Homo sapiens: one gene and its partner. The protein of the gene in region 2 interacts with the protein of the main gene of each other region in a biochemical or structural test. Each region holds a gene or a part of one and is shown on either strand. Other genes may lie near its edges.

The links.
Region 1: the proteins of CYLD (region 2) and TRAIP interact in far-western blotting, tested with the Homo sapiens proteins (one study listed by BioGRID).

What each region holds. Positions count from the first base shown.
Region 1 is NC_000003.12:49,853,565-49,861,126, forward strand, and holds the start of TRAIP (E3 ubiquitin-protein ligase TRAIP), read right to left. Parts: upstream 3,001-7,562; 5' UTR 2,890-3,000; coding exon 2,792-2,889; intron 1-2,791. Other genes in the region: CAMKV (caM kinase-like vesicle-associated protein), read right to left, coding at 5,754-6,317, 6,607-6,694, 6,907-6,985, 7,152-7,288, 7,379-7,454. UniProt on the Homo sapiens protein: E3 ubiquitin ligase required to protect genome stability in response to replication stress.
Region 2 is NC_000016.10:50,773,052-50,780,129, reverse strand, and holds part of CYLD (ubiquitin carboxyl-terminal hydrolase CYLD), read right to left. Parts: intron 4,965-7,078; coding exon 4,956-4,964; intron 3,952-4,955; coding exon 3,853-3,951; intron 2,306-3,852; coding exon 2,189-2,305; intron 466-2,188; coding exon 86-465; intron 1-85. UniProt on the Homo sapiens protein: Deubiquitinase that specifically cleaves 'Lys-63'- and linear 'Met-1'-linked polyubiquitin chains and is involved in NF-kappa-B activation and TNF-alpha-induced necroptosis.

The DNA of each region.
Region 1 (7,562 bases), on a different chromosome or scaffold from region 2:
GCCAGGCACGGTAGCTCACGCCTGTAATCCCAGCACTTTGGGAGGCCGAGGTGGGCGGATCACGAGGTCAGGAGTTTGAGACCAGTCTGGCCAACATAGTGAAACTCTGCCTCTACTAAAAATACAAAAAAAATTAGCCAGGCACAGTGGTGTGTGCCTGTAATCCCAGCTACTCGGGAGGCTGAGGTAGGAGAATCACGTGAACCCAAGAGGCAGAGGTTGCAGTGAGCCAAGATTGCGCCACTGCACTCCAGTCTGGGCCACAGAACGAGACTCCATCTCAAAAAAAAAATTAGGCAAGACAGACTTTGAATTAAAGTTACAAGAGACAAAGAAGGACAAAGAAGAACATTTAAAAAAAGTTCAATCCTGCAAGAAGAAACAATTATAAACTCCAGCCTGGGCGACACAGCACGATCCTGTTTCAAAAAAAAAAAAAAATTATTCCAAACAAAAACTTTACTTAAAAACATACAATTGGCCGGTCGTGGTGGCTCATGCCTGTAAACCCCAGCACTTTGGCAGGCCAAGGAGGGTGGATCACTTGAGTACAGGAGTTTCAAACCAGCCTGGGCAGCATGGCGAAATCCTGTCTCTACAAAAAACAAAAATTAGCTGGGCATGGTGACATGCACCTGTAGTCCCAGCTAGTTGTGAGGCTGAGGCAGGAGGATCGCTTGAGTCCAGGAGGTCAAGGCTGCAGTGAGCAGAGATTGTACCACTGCAGACCAGCTTGGGCAAGAGAGCAGGACTCTGTCTCAAAAATAACACCAACGAAAAAAATACCACACATACACACAATTAAAATATTCAACAATAACGTAGAAGTGGGAAAAGAATGTTAGTATTCTAAGCTCTTTGAGTTGCCTGGGAAAATGAGAAAGGTGTTGATTAACCTTGAAATTGGTAAGTTAAGGATACATACCTTAATTTCTAGGATAACCACTTATAAATGGAAATGGGGTATATAACGACCCAACTAACTGAGGGAAAAATGGAGAAATACAGAATATTTAACCAATTCCTACCAAGGCAAGAAAGGAGACAATAAGATATAATAGGCAAGGCAAAACAGAATCGACTAAAGACAATATGTTTACTCTTTATTTAATCAGTAATTGCAACAATTTTAAGTAGACTAAATGGTCCAGTTAAATACAAAGATTATCAGACTGGATTTTTAAAAGTCCAACTAAATGTTGTTTTCCAAGGCTGGGTGCGGTGGTTCACACCTGTAATCCTAGCACTTTGGGAGGCAGAGGTGGGTGGATTACTTGAGTCCAGGGGTTCAAGACCAGCCTGGGCAACATAGCAAGACCCCATCTCTACTAAAAATACAAAAAAAAAAAAATAGTCAAGCATGGTGGCAGGCGCCTGTAGTCCCAGCTACTTGGGAGGCTAAGATGGGAGAATCACCTTAGCCCAGGAGGTAGAGGCTGCAGTGAGCCGAGATGGCACCACTGCACTGCAGCCTGTGTAACAGAGTGAGACCCTGTCTCAAAATAAAATAAAATAAAGATCTTTGCAGTAAGCTAAAGTACTTTTTAATATACAAAAAAAGAAATAAATGCTGTTTCAAGGGATACATGTAAAACACAAGGACACAGAAAAGTTTAAAGTAAAAGGATAGGCCCTAGCACTTTGAGAGGCCAAGGTGGGTGGATCACCTGAAGTCAGGAGTTCGAGACCAGCCTGGCCAACATGGAGAAACCCTGTCTATGAAAAACACAAAAATTAGCTGGGCGTGGTGGCGCACGCCTGTAATGTCAGCTACTTGGGAGGCTGAGGAAGGAGAATCACTTGAACTCAGGAGGTGGAGGTTGCAGTGAGCCGAGATCACGCCACTGCACTCCAGCCTACACGACAGGAGCGAGACTCCATCTCAAAAATAAAATAAAATAAAAATAAATAAATAAAGTAAAAGGATAGAAGAAAATAGAGTAGGCAAACAGAAAATAGAGTACGCTTAGAGGCGAGCTTAATTTCTAGTCTAACCAAACAGCAGTGGCTCCCTCAGCATGGGGCTCAGGCTGTCAGCAACACAGGCCTAAACAAAGCTTTGCAAGTAAGCCAGCAGCCATCAGTGTCATGCCTGCCTTTCTGCTTCCTAGGGCCTTTAGCCCCACAAGACCCTGTGATTATTATCACCCACCATTCCCAGGGGTAACGCTGCCTTATCTCTTTTGCTAGGAGGTCCAAACCGGCCTGTCCACATCTGCTAGGGGAATCTTTCCCCACTAGCTGTACACTCAACAGAATGGCCCTACACGGTCAGCAGGACCCCTGGATAGGGGAGCATCTCCTTGCCTTCCCCATGTTAAACGGGTTTGCTGACATGGCGAATACATTGGGGTGTCTGGACAGTGAGATGACTCTGGGTAGAATAATTCCAAACCATCAAGTAAGGCACAGCAAACTCTCTTGGGTAGCCAGAAGCCTAGCAGGTTTCTATCTGGAAGAAATAAAAGGACTTGTTGATGTGGTGAAAGCTCACCCTTGCCCAGGCTAACGGTTTTGAAATCACATCTGTTTGTATAGGTGATCAAGGAAGCATCTATCTTCACTGAGCCATCTTAGTCCCCCTCAGGCTTAGCTCAGCTATCACCTCTACCAGAAAGCCTGTCCTGACCCACTTCTGCCCAGGTTGGGAAGCTCCCGTGGGGCCTCGTCTAGGAGGAAGGTTCTCATCACTTGTCTGGATTCCGGGGTTGGACCGCCTGGAGGCCCAACACCTCAAGGCCCTGAAGCGGTACCCGGGCAAACACCGGGCCCCAACACTGCAGTCACTCACCACTGCAAGTGGAAGGTGTGGCCGCAGTGGATGGCGGCCACGTCGCGGGAGTGATCGAAGAAGTCGGAGCAGATAGTGCACAGAGCACGGATAGGCATGATGGCTGGACTCAAGGGGCCCAGGCAGCCAAAGAAACTGCTACAGGTCCGGCTTCGTAGACGCGCCCCCGCGCCTCCGCTTGCTTCAAATTTGGCTCCGCAGCACGACTTCCTGGAGCGGGCCGGAAGTGACAACACAAAACTTTGGGCGGAGCGTGAATACTTCGCCTGGATTGGACAAATTCTCGGATGGGCGGAACTATGGGCGGGGCTTAGCGGCCCCGAGGCCGTAGAGAATCCTGGGCGGAGCGCGGTCGCTCTCAGGCGTCCTCTGGGGAGACTCGACCTGCCACTTGAGAGCGCAGCATTATATCAAGGCGGGGAGCAGCGAGGCTGCCAGCTGGACCCTTTTCCAGGGCAAGGCAGCGCATTGTGGTCCCATGCCAGAGCTGGCGCGAGGCAGGCTGGGCCAAGGCAGAGAAAACCGCAGCCGCAAGGGAATAGAACAATGGTCCCGATGGGTCCCTTGGGCTCTGGACAGTGATGGACCATGCGCTATGGTCTGTAGTTCCCATAGACCACAATACCCTACCCTCTCAGTCCTCAGTTCCGGGCGATTCTAGAAAGATGGACACATAGGCCCCAGTCCCTCAGGTCACCCCAGGCCAACCTTGGCTTCATCCAAGTAAGATATGACTATCCTTGAGTTTGGAGACACTAGGGCCAGTACCCTGACTTTAGCTCTTAGCTCTCAGGAGGATCAGTTATGCTTGAGACTGTAGTAGGGTTGGAATTTTGGAGGCCCAGATGCTTCAAAGACTAGAGACTAACAAATCCTTTTTATTATTCCCACATCAGAGAAGTTATCTTTGAGGAGGTTATCTTTGAGGTCCTCCCAGAGAGCAGCATCCCTGGTGAGTTCACCCAGGCCCACCTGGGCTGGAGTAAGTCAACTTTTGGGTTTTTAGGCTTAGTATCTGTGGCAGTGTTACTCCCTCTACCCAGAAGAAACCCTGTGCATAGTCCCATAATATAAAGCTGATCTGCTCCAGCTGAAATAGACCCAGAGTGAGATTTCATTTGGGGCATAGGTGGAAAGCACAGGTGTTCACAGAAAGAAGGAATCAACACAGAGCAGCATAGAATCTTTGTGCATTGCTCACCCTACACCCTCTCCCTAGCTCAGGGAAGCTATCTTTGGCTATGAGCAGGGTCTGTCCTTGCGGTGGCTGGCCCAGGTAGATTCCAGCTCTATGCCTAAATCAAGAGTAAGGCTCCTCGGTCAACAGGAGTCAAAAACAGCAGCCCTTACTTGAGCTCTCAGCCCAGGGAGTATTCCTTGGTCCAAATGCAGCCCAAGACCCACTACTCACATGGATTTCTAGAGTTCAGAGGACCCCCACCACCACCACCATTGAGGAATACACTGTGGTGAGGATGATCTTCACCCTCAGCCCAAGAAATCCACAGGGCACTGTTCACTACTACTCCCAGCCACTACTTGTGAACCTGCTCCCAGCCTCTCCCTTCCCCACTGCCTTCCAGGGGCTCCTCCCCAGTAGGACAGAGGAAGCAAAGGCGAGAGGGTGGCCAGAGGCTTTGCAGGGTGATGTTTATTTGCCAGGTTCAGTAGGCACACAGTTAACCCACCGACCTTCACACACCAGAGCAGACCCACAGGCATGCAGGGAGAAGGGCAGGACCACCACGGAGTGCCGAGCAAGGGCGAGGACCAATGTGGCTGCCTATCCAGGCTGTGGTAGGGTCTGACAAAGGGCACCTGTCAGGAGCCTCCCTCAGGAAACTGGGGAGTTTAACCCTACTTCCTCATCCCAGAAAAAGCAACTCAATGTGGCTCTGAGGCACCTGGGCCTCTGATAGAAGTGAGCTGTAGAAAGAGGGAGTTCCTCTTCATTTCATTGTTGAACTGAGCAGAAAATCTGCCCCTGTAAAGGGCAAACCTCCAAATCAGATTATGAGTTATTGCCATGCAGCAAGCCCCCTAGGGTGGAGAGGACTTGTGGGCTGAGATTGTAGGAGGTGGGCATCTAGGAAGAGCAAGGAGGTATCAGCCCTCCCTGTTTGGCCCAGGGTAAGGACCCAGTAAGGCTGGGACACTGGGTGCTGGGCTTGTACTCTGCCCTGCCAGGTCTCATTGCCACGTCCTAATTGTTCCTCCTTTCCCTTAGAGGCTCATGAGGTTCAGGGTACAGGGCAGCCCACTGCAGGACTCGGAAAGGCAGGAAATAACACAAATAACAGGGTCTTAGGAAGGACAAAAATGGAAGCTTCTGCCCTCCTACTCATTCTCTCCACTCCTGAGGACCTCCACAGCTAGTGAGCAGTATCCCTAGCCATGTGCCAAGTCTGGACTTAAACATACTGCCCTACCTTTCTGCATCCTCTATACCAGCCTGTATCTGCTCCTAGAGCAGCCCACACACCACAGGCACACACCTTCATGTGCAGGAGCCTAAGACCGCTGACAGGGCCTCGCTGGAGGACCAGCTCTCAGGGCAAGGCCGCCCAAGTTTAGGGCCTGGGAGAGTGTGGGACCTGCAGGGCCTGCCTAGGGGAATGGTGAGGCAAGAAGGGAAGGGGAAGGAGAGCAGGAGCCCCCTGAGTATCCCTAGAGCAGCATCCCACAAGGAACAGAAACTGGTGAAGCTAGCAAAAGACAGAAAAGCCACAAGGAATCCATGCAGGGGCTGGGGCCGGCCCTGCCACTGGCCTGCCCACCACTCACACACATACACACAGGAGACGAGACTGCTCTCCCGTGACCCCTAGTTATGCCCCACTGGGATGTGGGGGCATGGGGGAGCGAGGGCATCATGCCAGTGACTCTATGTACAGTGAGAAGCCCCTCATCCACTCTCCCACCCTCCTGCCCATCCCCTGCCCCCCCTCACCAGGCTGCCTACTCAGCTGGCCTCCTCCCTTTGAGACTCCTGGGCATAACCAGCAGCCTCTTCCCCTTTACTAGAGGGTGGAGCCTGGCCTGTGGCGCCCTCTGGGGCTGTGCTGTCCGGCTGGGCCATAGCCGGCTCAGGGGTGGCAGCTGCCTTGGTGGCCAGCATGGCACTGCTTTGGGTGGTGGGCACAGTGCTCTCTTCTGTGGCTGGTGTGGCTCTCCCATCAGTGGCTGGAGTAGCGCTCCTGTCAGTGGCTGGGGTGACACTCCCATCAGTGGCTGGAGTGATGCTTCCATCGGTGGCTGGGGTGACACTGCCATCAGTGGCTGGGGTGGCACTTCCATCTGTGGCTGGGGTGGCACTACGGTCTGCGGGGGCCACATTATCACTCTTTGCAGCACGAGCAGCATCACCCTCAGGGGCTGAGGTAGCTCCACTCGCAGCTGCAGCTGTGGCCCCACCTGCAGCCCCGGGGGTGGCAGTGTCTGTGGCTGAGGCCGACTGGGCTGCAGCCGTGCTGGACTGCTCTGGTGCCCGGAGCCGTTTCATGAGGGTGGTCACTCGGACAGCCTTCTGAAAGGAGCACAGTGGAGAAAGGCTAAGGGTGAGGCTTGCTGGATCCATTGCTTGGCAGTGACCAAACCAAACTCCTTCCATAGTACCCCCGGCCACCTCCATCCACCCCAGGGCCAAGTACTCAGCTGCTCAGCACTCCTACTTAAGGTAATCACAGTGGCTACACCCACACCTGATGGCCTGAGAAAAGCTTGTGTGTGGCTGCAGGGGTGTGATGCAGGCAAGAAACTGAGTGCCAGAAGCAATACTTGGGATAGAGCCAAGAAGGGAGTTATCCAAGCCTTACCTTCCACTTGGCCCTGGCAAAGTTCTTTTCAATCTGGGCACAGACACCATCCTTGATGTTCTTATCAGAAGCAGCATTGCCAGAAATCCTGGAAAGGGTGCAAGTGTGTCTGGATCTGAGAGAATGAGCCTTTGTGGAGACTCTGCTCAGCCCTTCTATGTGGCATCCAGGGACTACCAGGCAGAGCCTCTGGGCTGCCCTGAGCTCTAGGTACCTGCACCCCTTCCAGGCCTCAAAGATGGGGCTGCTGGGTGTGAGGGGGACCCTGGCCTCTCCCACCCTCCCCTGGACCCTGCTCACCACTCATGGGAGATGGCCTCTTCTGCAGTGATCCGCTGGTCTTGCTCCACCTCCATCAGCCTTGTGACCAGGTCTTTGGCTGTGGACAAAACCAAGAAGGGGATAGTCATGGGCACCCCATCTCAATGTCTAGAGGTGATAAATGGGCTGGGGGACAGAAGCAGAATACCACAGAGGAAGATGAGAGCAGGACACCCTCCCCACTCCCTTGCGTTCTACCAAGTGCTGGGCAGGCACCTCCTCACCTGCCTGCGAAATATCATCCCAATATGGAGAGTCAAACTCATAGTCACCAGCCAGGATCTTGCGGAAGAGATTCTTATCATGGTTCTCATAATCATCTTCTTCCACCTCCTCATAGAAAGGTGGATTGCCTGAAAGCCTGCATGGGGGAAGGGTCACACAGAAAGGCCACAGACACATGCCCCCACCCCATCTGACTGCAAGCCTGCTTGTCCATCTGTCCACTCACAGGATGTACATGATGACTCCAATGGCCCAGCAGTCCACAGGGCGTCCATACCGCTGCCGGCCTACCACCTCTGGGGCTACAAACACAGCGCCCATCTGCTGGTCAGTATCAGGCCTAGCCAGGTCCAGTACCATCCACACCAGCTTCCTGAGATGAGCACATTTTCCCCCTGCCCAGAGCAGCT
Region 2 (7,078 bases):
TTTGTCAAAAAGCATATAATAGGGCGAAATCTGCACAAAACCTCACAGAGAAAAAAATTGAAATTTTTGGGTCAAGTTAAATTACCAGTTCCAGTCCAGCGAGCACTTCATTCAGTCCTGGTGGCTGACCGATCCAACGGATTACCCCATAGAAAGGAGGGTTCTCCTTAACTTCAGCCAATGAGCCCACTTCTAGACCATGTGAGTTCCCAGGAGGCATGGCCAAGGGTGGACTCTCTTGGACGGGTGCAGTGTTTAGCTCTTCCATTACAGACTGGGCTGACAGAGAAAGTGGACTGTGGCCAATACTTCCATTGGTATTGGGCATCTTGGTGAGACTGAATGGTAAAGAGTGGAATCTGTTCTCGGTGGTCAGTGAGTTCACAGGAGGAGGCTGGAGTGGTGGTGAAGAACGGTCAAAGTCTGTAGATATCTCTGTAAGAGATTTTGCAGGGTCTTCTGCAACTAAAAAATTATTCCTAATTACAGAAATGTATTCAAGGATATTGACTCTGTCTTACATTTCTAAAAATTTATATACAGATCTAGTCCAACTGCCCACCTGACCTCCCTGCTATTAATAGTACTCTCATAGGCATCACAAAGTTATTATCTCCAACAGTGTTCTCGCTCCTCTCTCCACCTCCATATTTATGCACCTCAGTCAATGGCACCCAACTGTTCAAACCAAAAAAATCTATTATCAGCGGGTATCGTATACGTGATAGTCTTTGTCCAAAATACAATTAATTGAGAAGGCAGTACAAAAAGATACCGAAAACCTTAAGAAACGCTTCTATATATCTAATGGATCAAAAAAGAAATAATACGTTTTAACAATAAAGAAAAAAGAGAGAAAAAGTAACAAAGAAAGAAAGAATCCTTGTGAAACATGGCTAAATTAATACTTATAAGGGAATTTTATAGACTTCATTGCTTATTTCAGAAAAAAACAAAAGCTAAATATGAACTCAGCATACAACTTGGGAAGTTAAAAGAACAGAATAACCCTCAAAAAAGTAGAGAAGAATAAACTAAAGAACAGAAACAACAGAAGAGAGAAAACAAACATACAATAAGAAGTTCAAAGCCAGAATAAACACAAACACAGAATGTAATTTAAGAGAAACCAAACACATGATAAAGAGAGCCACAGCCAAAAGCTATTTTCTTAAAATGACTAATACAGCTGACAGGCAGGTATTGCAGATCAATGACAAAAGAATGAACTTCTTACTAAATGCTGTTGAGATAATTGGTTATCCATATTTTTAAAAAAAAATTAAACAGGAATCCTACTCATACTTTACATGAAAATCAGCTCCAGGTGCCTTAAAAACAAATGTGGCAGGCAAAACTCTAAAGGCTGGGAGACCACAGAGTCAGGCCTGTTTGCCTTTCCATTCTCATCTCATGAATGTCATGCCTCTGTCTGTGTTCTAGTCCCTGGCAAACACTAGCTTCCATTCTTCCAGGAGGACTTTCCCTATGCTATTTCTTCTCCCGAGGAAGTTCTAGCCCCTTTCACTTTGTCATCTGTCACTCCTCTGGTAAACCTAAGCATGTGTCACTGCCCCAAAGAAACACCCCTAAGACCCTGAGAAAAATCATCTTTGGTGTATTCTCACAGCATCATGCACCTTCACTGCACACACCACCAAGGCAACTCTACTGTGTCTGTGGTTGTTTGACTAATTTCTATCTCAACAACTTAACAACTGCAAACTCACAAAGGGCATGAACCATGTCTATTTTTTCTCACCATTTTCATCTTGATGCCTAAAAGAATGCCTGGCAATCATAAGCACTCAATAAATATTTGTTGAACAAATGAACAAAGAAGAGAATAAACTAGGTGAAAATGATGTCCCAGGACCAAGGGAAGATAAAATTTTTTAAAAGGGAGTGCTTTAAAGAGGTCAGGAAGGAACCAGACAGAAATCTTCCACCCTAAATAGATCAGCAGTTAAAGGAAAAGAACAAATTACTAATACATTTCTTAAACATTTTAATAATCTTAACAGCAGTACGGTTCAAACTGTGTACAATATTTTAGTTCAGCAATATTACAAAGAGCGGTCTACTTATTCTGTTTCCAAAAACTACAAATATTGATATAAAAAACCATTTTTCTCTGATGAGTTAGAAAGAAAGGATCATTATAAAGAACACTAAAATTACTGATTACCTTCATCAATGTACCATGTATTTTTTGATTTGGATTGTGGTTGTGAGTCAACAGAAGACCCATTTAAGGTATAAAATAATTCAGATCTGTTTCTATTTCCAGGGTCTGAGGTAGATCCTATAGGAACAAGAAAAGTTTCATTTAAAAATAAAGTCAATATAGCATCAAAGTTTTTTTTTAGTAAGAGAAATTATTATGAATATGATGTTAATAACTGTTTACATAACCAATAAATGTATATAAACACAATATGTTTTTTAACTGTCTTCAGCTTTTAAAAATTTGGTAACCATTTTGACAATATTAAAAATATTTTTCAGCCCAAAAGTCAAGATAGGAGGGAAACAGGAGTAAGTTAAAAGAAAAGCCCACTCATTTTTAAAAAAAATGAACTGCTTTAAGAAATTGTTCCATGTACCACAGCTTATTTCTAAATGTCAAAATCACCATTCTCCAGCTTCATTTCATAGACCCATTGGTTCACAAATTTAACCTATTATTTTAAAAGAAGGTAATCCTCAAATTCTATATATAAATCAATACACAAATTACATTTAAAAATAGTTAAGTTTTAAACATTTTGGAATTTTTGGTCATCAAATTCCTTGTGTCTTTGAAAAAATCAAGCACTATTATTTCTTACAGATTGGATTTATTATACGTGAGAGGGCGAGTGTAGCTATGCCACAGCCATTTCATGACATTACCCTGCCTCAGTATTAATTCAAGGACATACCACACACAGTGGAGGGCAGTGGGCTCTCCAGAACCCACAAAAAAGCTGATTTCCCTTTTCAAATTAAAGCAGGTAGCTGTACATTTTATAACTTTAAGATCTACTACAATACAATTAACATGCCATAGCTTAAGAAAATCTTTAGTCTGTTTCTATTTAAGTGAGAGTAGCAAGTTTGAGCTATCCTATATAGATCTATAGGTTAACATAAAAAAGACTGTTACCTATATATCCTGCAATTAATCCTAAGTCTCCCAGGCCCCAATGTCACATAAAATAATTCTTAAAGTACAATTTCCTTTTAAATGAGCCAAAATTGTAATAATTGAGGAAAAAATATTCTTTTCCTAACTCGCATCTGAGTTAACAAAAATTCTCAGAGCCTTTTTAATGAGCTCTTTGGCTTGTATAACTACTATTCTATAAATCTATGAAGTATGTGGAAGCTAACAAAAAAAAGAGCTGTAAGCTCCACACATATTGTGAGGAAGCTTCTGGGAAAGAGAAGAAATTTTTGCTTAGCAGTTTGGGATTTAATTTGTACCAAATCTAGTTAGCAAAATCCATTTAATTAACCTCTAGTATACTTTATCCTATATAACATTATCCATATAGGATTATTTTACACAGTTGCAATCCTAAACTATACATACAAATATTCCAAGTAAGGAGTTCCAAAAACCATTTGATTATAGACCAGCAAAACACACAAGACCCTATGGGGAACTCTTCCTGAGGTAAAAAAGGCTGGGAACACTTGGCTTAAGCAACAGTATTTATATACAAACTTTAGTTTCACTACTAAAAATGTTTGAAAGAAAAAAAGTCTACATACATGTTCAGAAGTAATAGCTTATAATCTTTTTTAATGCTATGGCAAGTTAGGCATTATGCAAATTACTAAAGGTTATATGCTATTAATCCATACCTGTAGCCTTTGGTTTATTATGACTGGATGAACCTTTGTCCCCAACACCTCTTGACATAAAGGCAAGTTTGGGAGGCCTCCTTTCCTGCGTCACACTCTCTGAAACAGTAAGCATGTTTTTTAAAGATAAAGGCAAATTCTTATAGAAGAGAAACAAGGAATGACAGTAACAAAATAAAAAAACCCTCTTTCCACAAAAAGGCAGAATTTTTAGTTTTACAAATGCCTTTTAAAGGCCATCAAAAGTATTGAAAAAGATAATACTATGGGGGAAAAAACCAATGCTGTATTTCAAAATGTAATTTCTATAAGAAAATACCCTCTCAAAATACAATTCAGCTAAATGCTTTAACCTCTTGAAAATTTAATCACTTGTAGTCAATTTTATTTGATCTCTTAAAACACTACAAAGAAAATCTTACTCGGTTTTTTACAGCATTTCCCAAATCAGCAGGCTTAGAACACCCCTGTGTATTATGAAGTGTTTCGAACTCAAATATTTCTTGAAGATGCTGAGATAAACAAAGATAAACAATTTCTTTACTGCACGGAACCAGAGCCTTTAATATGCTAATGTGCATTGTGAACTGCTCAGGGAGAAACAAAATAAACTTATTGATAAAAATTTTTGTGCCACTTTGCTTAGCATCTCAGATTAATATTATTTCATGAACACAGTTTGAAAAAAGCCTGGTTAGGAATATGTATCATGGTTAGGAAAGAAAGTTCTGGTTAAGAACATATATCTGTTTTTAAAAACATATATGTTAAGAATAACACAGATGTGTATACAAACACTTATACATATAAAAGAGGAAAACATAGAGAATTATGCATAGATTAAAAATACAGAAAGCCAGAGACACACAACAATAATATATTTGAAGAAAACACTCACAATTATTTCTGAAATATAGGTGTAATAAGTGTGGCAAACTTGTTTTGAATACAAAGACCACTCTAGACCTTAAAGCCCAGCAATGATCATAGAATACTCCTAAATACTGATCAAGGGAATGTAGAAGAGGCAGTGTGAAAAGTTCTTCCTTTGAAAAATTCAACAATACATCCGTGGAGTCCAACACGACACTTAGGAGTCATACCTGATAAAGCTGTGTGTCAGCAAAAACGATATCACCCACAGTGGATTTGAGGACAGAAAGAAAGAAATAGGAAAATTTTTACATTTTAAACACAAGGAAAAGACTTTTCTTAAAAAAAGAGGAAATTTACTAAATGAATTATATGTAAATACTTGGTAACTTTTTTCCATGGTTGAAAGAGGAGGGGGATGTGTTATTAAACTATATCTTAAACATCTCATAATATGATCCAATAGAATATGAAAATATTTTAATTCAAAAATTATACCAATTAACCACGATTTCGATCAAGTGATATAATAAGAGAAAAGCTATGTACTAATACTGTGGTCCCCACTTATCCACACTTTTACCTTCCACGGTATCAGTTACCCACAGTCAACCACTGTCCAAAAATATTAAATAAAAAATTGCAGAAACAGACAATTCGTAAGTTTTAAGTTGCATGCTGTTTTGAGTATTATAACGAAATCTTGCACCATCCTAATCCATAACCCCTGACGTAACCCATCCCCGTCCAGCATCTCCACACTGTGTCTACTCCCTGCCTTGTTAGTCACTTAGTAGCCACCTCAGTCATCAGATCAACTATTGCAGTATCACAGTGCTTACATTCAAGTCACCCTTATTTTACTTAATAATAGTCCTGAAGTACACGAGTAGTGATGTTGCCATATTGTTATTATTGTCTCTTCTCTGATTATTGTTTTCAATATCTTATTGTGCCTAATATATAAATTAAACTTTATCAGAGGCATGAATGTAGAGGAAAAACACAGTATACGTAGGGTTCAGTACTATCCATAGTTTCAGGTATCCACTGGGGGTCTTGGAAGTATCCCTTGATGAAAGAGGAGACCACTGTTCTTTTATGATGTTGTCATTCAGATATCTTTAAATAGCACCCATGACAGATACTTCAGAAGGAAAATCTTAGTCACTGAGAAGAGTTCCTAAATTATAGCATATAAATTTCCTAAAGAAAAACAACTCCCACTATTAACTGTAATTAACTGCATATAACATTTTTAAAGTATGTTCACATGTATACCACGATATAGATCCATTATATAGTTAGTAACCATTATAACAAATGAAGCAAGTGCTCTTCCCTTTGTTAGGCTTTGAAGGTAGCCTGGCAGGACTGGAGAGCCAACTGGATGGCCGGTGGTGACAGTTCTGCAGGTGACACTAGGGAGGAGCTCCAAAGATTAGGAATGTGAGCAGGGGGGCACTGGAGTTGGAAACTGTGGCTACCTTCTGTCAAAGGCTGTCTGAGAGGGGGTCAAATATCAGCTCTGAAGAAGAAGACATTCCATCAGAATTCTATACAGACAAAGGGGCACAAACCACCTCTAATTGCCCTCCAGCAATTACACACCAAATATTTCTTATTACTTTGTCACAACTGTGTTCATGGCCCAAAACTACTTGGGTCATGAAGCAAAGCTTTCAAAGTTAAATGAATTATAAGTGATTACCAACTCAGAAAAAGATAAATATGGGATGGAAAGCAAGGTAAGATAAATTCAGCTGGCAATTTTGTGTGATTAAAACAAACCTGATTAAAGATATTAAAAGATATAGAAGATAATTCCACCAAACAGCATGAGTAAAAATGTACAGAGCAGCCCTATTCATTCTAATCAAAAGCTGGAAACAAGCTATTCTACAGAAGAATAGAGAAACAAATTATGGTCTATTCATACAATGGAATACTACATAGCAATAAAAAAGGAACAAACTACTGATAAACAGGGCAACATGGACATTGTGTTCAGCAAAAGAAACCAAACCAAAAGTATCCATTATGTATACACAGCAAGATTGCATTTAAATGATAAAATTCACAGCTTATCCATCACTTGTTGATTTAACCAGAAAAAGAAAAATCCCTTGGAGAATCTTGAGCAGGAAATCATAACAATAAACTAGTGAACAAGTTATTGTTCAAATCAAATGAAATGTCTATGAATTTGAATGACCCAGTAAATTAAGAGAAATTGTTTAATTAATGTACCGCTTAACATCAGCAGCCACAAGAGCATAATTCAGACTCAAATGAGAATTTAACATCCACAGAAATCTTGTGAAGAAAATACAGTTTACTTGAGTAGAATGAG